2 linked regions of the Homo sapiens genome follow. The protein of the gene in region 1 purifies or fractionates together with the protein of each later gene. This does not show direct contact. Each region holds a gene or a part of one and is shown in the gene's direction. Other genes may lie near its edges. The genes, in order: DCDC1 and FAT3.

Region 1 (3,832 bases):
CTACTAGAATTAAGTCACTAGTGTATCCTTGACAGCCATGAATGGCCTTCCAATTTTTGTGCCCTGCAGGAGTGGTTTTATTTACTTTCATAACTTTCTATGTATCTTGATAATAAGCCTTATCACTTGAAGCCTAAGTGTGCCTCTCTGTTTCTGGAAAGCTGAAGGAACCTAACACCCTTCATTCCAGCACCAGTTTAGCAAACTGACTATGTGGGTTTAATTCCCATGTGGGACAAGTTGGCTTTGCAAGGGTATGTAATCATCCTTTCCAACACCTAACAAGCTATGAAACACCTATCAATTGTTATAAGAAAGATGAGTTTGAGAGTGTGTAAGAACTACTGAGGCTGGGCGCGGTGTAATCCCAGCACTTTGAGAGGCCAAGGTGGGAGGATCATGAAGTCAGGAGATTGAGACCATCCTGGCTAACATGGTGAAACACCGTCTCTACTAAAAATACAAAAAATTCAGCTGGGCGTGGTTGCATGCGCCTGTAGTCTCAGCTACTCAGGAAGCTGAGGCAGAAGAATCGCTTGAACCTGGGAGGCAGATGTTGCAGTGAGCTGAGATTGCGCCACTGCACTCCAGCCTGGGCAACAGAGCAATACTCCATCTCAAAAAAAAAAAAAAAAAAAAAAAAAAAATCAAGAATTACTGAAAACCTGTCCTCAATGTTGTAAAACATATCAAAGCTGAAGACTATTCATAGTGGACCAATAATATTAACTCTTTAACATAAAAAACTACCCCTTCTCCCACTTTCAGATATAAATTACTAGAGAAAACCAAGTAATAAATAAACAAATATATAGTTGAACCATATATTTAAATTTAATTATTTTTACCATTCACTGGGTAAATCTATAATCTCTTGTCCTAACCCTATCAGGATCATGTGGAGTTGGGAAGAGTTTGCATTCCCAAAAGAATGCAAGTGCTGTTACCAGAAGATGGGGAAGATGTGTGTGACAAACAAAAATGATAGACAGCCCATGCATAACTAGGTAGAAGAGGGCTATATCAATATAGTTGATAAAATATTATATTCCAGTAAAATCCATACAGAGCATAGAGCAACATGAATAATGGTTATAAAACAGTATTTAGTCAGAAGGCAATAGAATTGAGGATATAACATGATTAAAACTTCAGAATATGAAAAAGTAAAAACCTTTTGCCTTGTGGTGGTAGAATAATGGATTGTTATGTTAAAAATCATTAGTATATTTATAAGAATATTTCATAATGAAAAAAATACATTCATTAAAAAAGACACCTTATTCTACTTTTAAGTAGGGAATTCCATTTTTTTAAAAAAATATGGGAATCTGCTCTTCAAGTAACTATTTATTGGAAACTTGGAACTGTTTATGAAATCTGTGATTCTTTCCCCTGGCTGTTTACTGGTCTTCCCCCAGGTTGAAGAGCTTGGTAACCGTGTGAAGCTCCATTGCTATTGCTGCAGAAACACTGCCAGTTTGAAATGACTGCTGCCACATGCCGTCACTCACCACCGTTATCAAAATCTGAGTGGCTTAGGTGGTCTGCAGGGAGGTCCCACTTTTGCCAGAGCTAGTCCAAAGACCCTTTCAAGGCGTTGTTTGCCACAGTTTTGAGCCTGGTTATATCCAATGTGTAGGGAAGGCTGCTCCTCTCCCCAGTACTGTACTCAGTCTAGGGCAGACTTGGATAGAAACATGTGATGATAACAACAACAGCAGAATACAACTGCTTGGATTCCAGAGGTGTAGTTCCCCTGGGTCCACTGTGTGAGCTCACACACATACACACACACACACACACACACACAAACATCTATTTTCCCTCTGATGTGTGACTACCATTCATTTTTTCAGAGGAAATAATTGACCATTTTACTCGTTTGTGACCATAAAGAGGGCAGGCTGGAAGAAATAATTGTGATTATAATGACATTTGTGGATGTGAAAGATTTGGAGGAGGGGCAATCCCTGCTGAGCTTTCAACACTGAACATATGTTAATTTATAATTGGGGGTGTGTTTGGGGGGGTTATATTATGCAATAACTATTGAGGAATGAGCAAATTGGAAAGAAGCAGATTTGGTTTGTGCAAAGATACTTCCGATTATGGTAATACATGGAACCTGACTATCCTCTATGTGTGATCACCACACAGCTCAATATTTGCAAATATATTAAAACTTATTTTATTTTATCATACCGGTATATTCTATACCTATTCATCTTCCCAACTTGGTGTCTATATAGATTAATATATTCTTCCAGGTCATGTGGTTCCCTGTTCACACATCATAGTTCATCCACATACTACTCTTCCAGCCTAAATACCAGTAGGGTGACCAACTGACCCAGTTTATCTGAGACTGAGGGAGTTCCTGGAATGTGTGACCCTCAGTGCCAAAACCAGGATAGTCCTGAACAGAGATGAGTTAGGCTAATCTCAGGTCTGCTGTGAAGCCTTTACCGACTTTATTCCCACCCATTCTAAAATGGCCTTCAATGAATTATTTTCATCTTTAAGGCTAATACACACTCAGTTTCAGTTTATTTAACATATATTCTCTATTGGGGGATTGTTTGCAAGTTTCTTGAGGGTAGGACCCACATATTTTTAACAGCAGAGTGCTAAGTAAGTATTAGAAAATAAAGTGGATCTAAGAATTTAAAAGTTATACTTACATTGTTTTAAACATTATGCAAGCTTCCTTTTGGTTGAATTAAGTAAAGCAATGAAGCTTAATGGTTATGAATGTGGATTTTATTTCAGGACAGGCTTGGGTTCAAATTCCCATCCTGTCAGTTATTGATTATGTGACAGTGGGCAAGTTAATTAACCTCACTGATTCTCAATTTCTTAAATCTGTAAAATGGGAATAAAAATAATAACCACTTCCCAGGAATATTGTAGGCATTAAACAAAATAATGGCTAAGTGTGTAGTATTTTGTGTAGCACATAGCACACAACTCGTTATTATATGGTATTTGTTAATAAATGATTACAAATCAATTAATTGTATTCTTCCATGCATTGTTTCTTCCAGAGAGTTTATGTCATCCCAGGCAAAAGCAGTTATTAAAACTACTGATGATTATTTGCAGTCTCAGTTTGGCCCCAACAGACTCGTGCATTCAGCAGCAGTATCAGAAGGGTCAGGACTTCAAGATTGCTCCACACATCAAACAGCATCAGATCACAGCCATGATGAAATATCAGACCTAGATAGCTACAAATCAAACAGTAAAAACAATTCTTGTTCTATATCAGCATCCAAGAGAAACAGACCTGTCAGTGCTCCAGTGGGTCAACTGAGGTAATCAAAGCTGTTCTCTGTTCTTTTTAACCTATTGTTGAAGTTCTTTCCTTTGAGCAGAGTTTATAATGTTTCAATTGACTATCTCAGACATTAAAATGTAACACATCTCTCGGGTTTTGTTTTTGTTTTTGTTTTTTTCTTTGAAAGCACCAGAGTAGAATGTTGTTAATTACACTGTGGGAAATATGAGATACACTTCAACCCGGGCAATCAGAAACTCTGAAAAGAATATTTGAAGCAGAATCAGGCTAGGATCATGAAATATCTTTGCTCACACGAACTTATTTAAAAATAAAAATGCTTTCTTTTGATATTTAACCAATAGTTTGAAACAGAATTGAATTGAATGAAATTATTATAAAACAATTTTGTAAATATGTTTTCACATCAAATTGTTATCATAAACTGTTAACATGAGAGTTCATAGACAGAAGAAAATATTAGTAAAAACAAAAATCAAACCAAGAAACTAATACCCCACTATTTTCAAATGTTTGAATATGTGGATATGT
Region 2 (3,832 bases), about 61 Mb from region 1:
TCCAACCGAAAAGACTGCTCTGCTTATCTTTTGACCTCTACAGACTACAGCATGGTGCCCAGTCGTTTCTTTAACTGACTAAAACAAGACAGAACAGTTATTTCCTTAAAACATCTTTCATAAAGAAAACCCAAACTTCCAGAAAACCATGGGAACAATTGATATCGCAAAAAAAATGACCTTTGATTGTATGTAAGAAACTATTGAGGATTACAATGTTCACAATAAATCTCAAATGACCAGCAGGGCTCTTCACAGACAGACAGACAAACCCACACTGGTCCGCACTGGTCCTAGAGGAGCAAGTTTCTTCCCAGTTGAGGGTGGGAGACAGGCAGATCCCAGATGCTTCAGCACTTTGAAGCAAATGACAAATGGCTGTGTAAAGTATTATGTTTTATTTAACTTTTCTCACACACATCAGATAAGCAAGATTTCACTCTGTTTATTGGTGGGCTATAAATTTCCTGTCTCCTGCCTGTCCTCTAAAGTAACTACGGAAGCTTTTTATTTTGGCCTGAAGGACTGAGGCAGAATTTGAGTGCAGAGCTTCAGGTCTTATATCTAGTTTGAGTTTTGTGTTTGGTGTCAATGGTGAGTCTGAGGCAGGATTGTACAAGAGAGACTGGGACTGAGTTGAGTTCGGGTGAGGGCATATGGATCCCAAGATGCATATGAATAGAGAGTTTAAAATATTTTTTTTAGATTTACCTCTCCTCTCAATCATTCAACAAATATTAAGCAACTTCTTTGTAGCAGATGCTGTGTTGTGTACTAGATAAGGAATGATAAGAAAAGCACAGCTTTTATTCAATTGCCAAAAATCTACAAGAGGCCATAGATTCCAAAAAACAAACAGAGGCCAATTTTTCAGGATTCAAGTGTAGCAGGAAAGAATAAGCAGGAAGTGGATTCCAAGAGAATGGGTCAGTGTGTCAAAGAGGGAAAGAGGAGAAGGGCCCACTTTGGACCTGATGTATCAGCACACCATTCTGGAAGCGTGTCACAAGCAGATCAGCGGCCATGGGATAGCAGGATTATGAATTTCTACTTGAGGCCAGGCACAGTGGCTCGTGCCTGTAATCCCAGCATTTTTGGAGGCCAAGGCAGGTGGATCACTTGAGGTCAGAAGTCTGAGACCAGCCTGACCAACGTGGCAAAACCCCGTCTCTACAAACATGAAAATTAGCCAGGTGTAGTGGTGCCTGCCTGCAGTCCCAGCTACTCTGGAGGCTGAGGCAGGAGAATCACCTGAACCCAGGAGACAGAGGTTGCAGTGAGCCAAGATTGCACCACTGCACTCCAGCCTGGATGACAGAGCGAGACTCCATCTCAAAAAAAAACAAAAAATTATATTTGAGGTCAAAAGCTGGCTCCCTGCCATCCCCACCATAATCTATCTTTCTGGGCATGAAGAAATCTGCCGGGTGTGGAGTGAGGGAGGACTTACCTAGAAACTCTGCAGTCGGGCACCATAATCAGTGAACACCGAGATCCCTGGCTCCAGTAGCATTCATCAGTCAGGGTTGCATGTTGGTGCCATCACTGGAAGGTGACCATTGCTTAGGTGAAGTGATTTCCCCTTATAAAGTTCTGTGGATCACCTGTTGGATTCACACTCAATTCTATGACACTATTCATTGCAAGCTTGAACGTTTACTCATAAGATCATTGAACTTTTTATTATTGTCATCACAAAATGGCCATGTTTAGGTGGCAAAGTAATAAATCATGCCGACATCAAAGACAACATTGTTTAATATTCACATTTGGGGGGGCTGGAATCAAAATGACCTCTTTATTAGATATACTTTGTCTTTTAAAATAAGCAAGTATCTTCTTGAAATAGATGTTACATGAACATGACCATTTTGTGTTCAGACATGGAAAACTTTATATAATTAGCATGTAGGAAGAGGTATGTAGACACATCTCATAACTGCCCTGAAAATCCTGGTCCCTATTTTAATGATTTTAACATTTAAATTATATACCTATCATACTACAATACTCAGAAAGAAAAGTCCAGATAGAGTTGAATAACCAAGATCTTTAACTTTTGATTGGAAAGGATCTCAACACAGAAGTATATGTGTTCTTTGAGAAGTATGAGAAAGCCTGATAAGAGAAGCAAAAAGCAACTTGGTGAGGGATGCAACTTCACACTACCCACTGCCTTTCAGCTCTGTCACCACCTACCTTCTTTACATACTCCACATTGTGTCTTCCCCATTTTTTATTCCTCTGTTATTTCTCTCATTCTCAACAATCCCAGATTTCGAACCACAACATGTTTCTGAAGCAGAGCTGTAAACTACTACAGTGTCATGGCCAGAGCCCTTCCCCTGCCAGCTCTATCAAAGTGGGGTGCCCAGGTTTCAGTTTCACAAGGATTATGTCTCAGGTTCTTGGTTGCAGTGCTGGTTCAGATTCCCAACAGTTTCTTGGTACACTAGAAACACCTCAAATGCTTGGTGAATAGAATGGTTACAGATTGAGCAACTGCCCTATAACTTTTTATGTTTACTTTTATGTCTAGATGTGTGCATGTGTGTGTTCAGAAGCATGAGAGAGGGGTAGAGCATGAGTGGAGAATAGAAGAGAAGTCAGGAAAATTCATCACACTTACAAGGCAAATAATGACTTGCCAAGAATTCTCCACACCTGACTGAACAAACCCCTTCACCAAAGTAGTGTTTTGGATAAAGTCATTTTTGATAGGGTGAAATAATACCAATTCCATGTAGCGAAGTTTGCTTTTGGGATAATCAGAAAACAACTGACTACTTTATAATGCTCTGAAACTATTCCCACAACCCTCTTTCTTTAAACCTAGAACAGAAAATATGACACTGCTACCTAAACCAGTGGCATTCATATGTGGGCTTCCCAATCTATCTGTCTTCTCACAAGGCTGGAAATAAGGAAGTCCTATACATTCTTAGCAGAAAGATCTCTCCTTCGGGCTCTCTTATTTCCCAACTTGAATGCACATAAGACTGTGTCATTGTCATTGTGTTTTTAACCTGGATCTAGAAGTTACTGATCTGAAATTTACTATAATACTGGGAAACTCATTTTGGTTCCTTTTCAGTACCCCTGAAAGAGAAGCCTCTCATTTTATTTCAGAATGACACAGATGAGTACTATAATTGCTTTCTACTTGCCACATTGCAGTAAGGTACCTATAGATAAAGAGTTAATCAAAAAGATTTCAGTGACCCACATGTAACTCATTTCACCATTGATTTCTGTATTTTAGGGAACACTGGGAACATGTTTAAGATCGAACCGGTCCTAGGCATCATCACCATTTGCAAAGAACCAGACATGACGACGATGGGTCAGTTTGTCCTATCCATCAAAGTCACAGATCAGGGATCCCCGCCAATGTCTGCTACTGCAATTGTGCGCATTTCCGTCACCATGTCTGACAATTCTCACCCCAAGTTCATTCACAAAGACTACCAAGCAGAAGTAAATGAAAATGTTGACATTGGAACATCAGTCATTCTAATCTCTGCCATCAGTCAATCTACCCTCATTTATGAAGTCAAAGATGGAGACATTAATGGGATCTTTACCATAAATCCATATTCTGGAGTCATCACCACTCAGAAGGCCCTGGATTATGAGCGCACATCCTCTTATCAACTCATCATTCAGGCCACCAATATGGCAGGAATGGCTTCCAATGCTACAGTCAATATTCAGATTGTTGATGAAAATGATAATGCCCCAGTTTTTCTCTTTTCTCAATACTCAGGCAGCCTAAGTGAGGCTGCCCCAATTAATAGCATTGTCAGGAGCTTGGATAACAGCCCACTGGTGA

What was found.
Region 2: the proteins of DCDC1 (region 1) and FAT3 purify together in Homo sapiens (affinity purification with mass spectrometry; one large-scale study listed by BioGRID and IntAct). This does not show direct contact.

What each region holds. Positions count from the first base shown.
Region 1 is NC_000011.10:31,307,124-31,310,955, reverse strand, and holds part of DCDC1 (doublecortin domain-containing protein 1), read left to right. Parts: intron 1-3,047; coding exon 3,048-3,317; intron 3,318-3,832. UniProt on the Homo sapiens protein: Microtubule-binding protein which plays an important role in mediating dynein-dependent transport of RAB8A-positive vesicles to the midbody during cytokinesis.
Region 2 is NC_000011.10:92,794,574-92,798,405, forward strand, and holds part of FAT3 (protocadherin Fat 3 isoform 1 precursor), read left to right. Parts: intron 1-3,262; coding exon 3,263-3,832.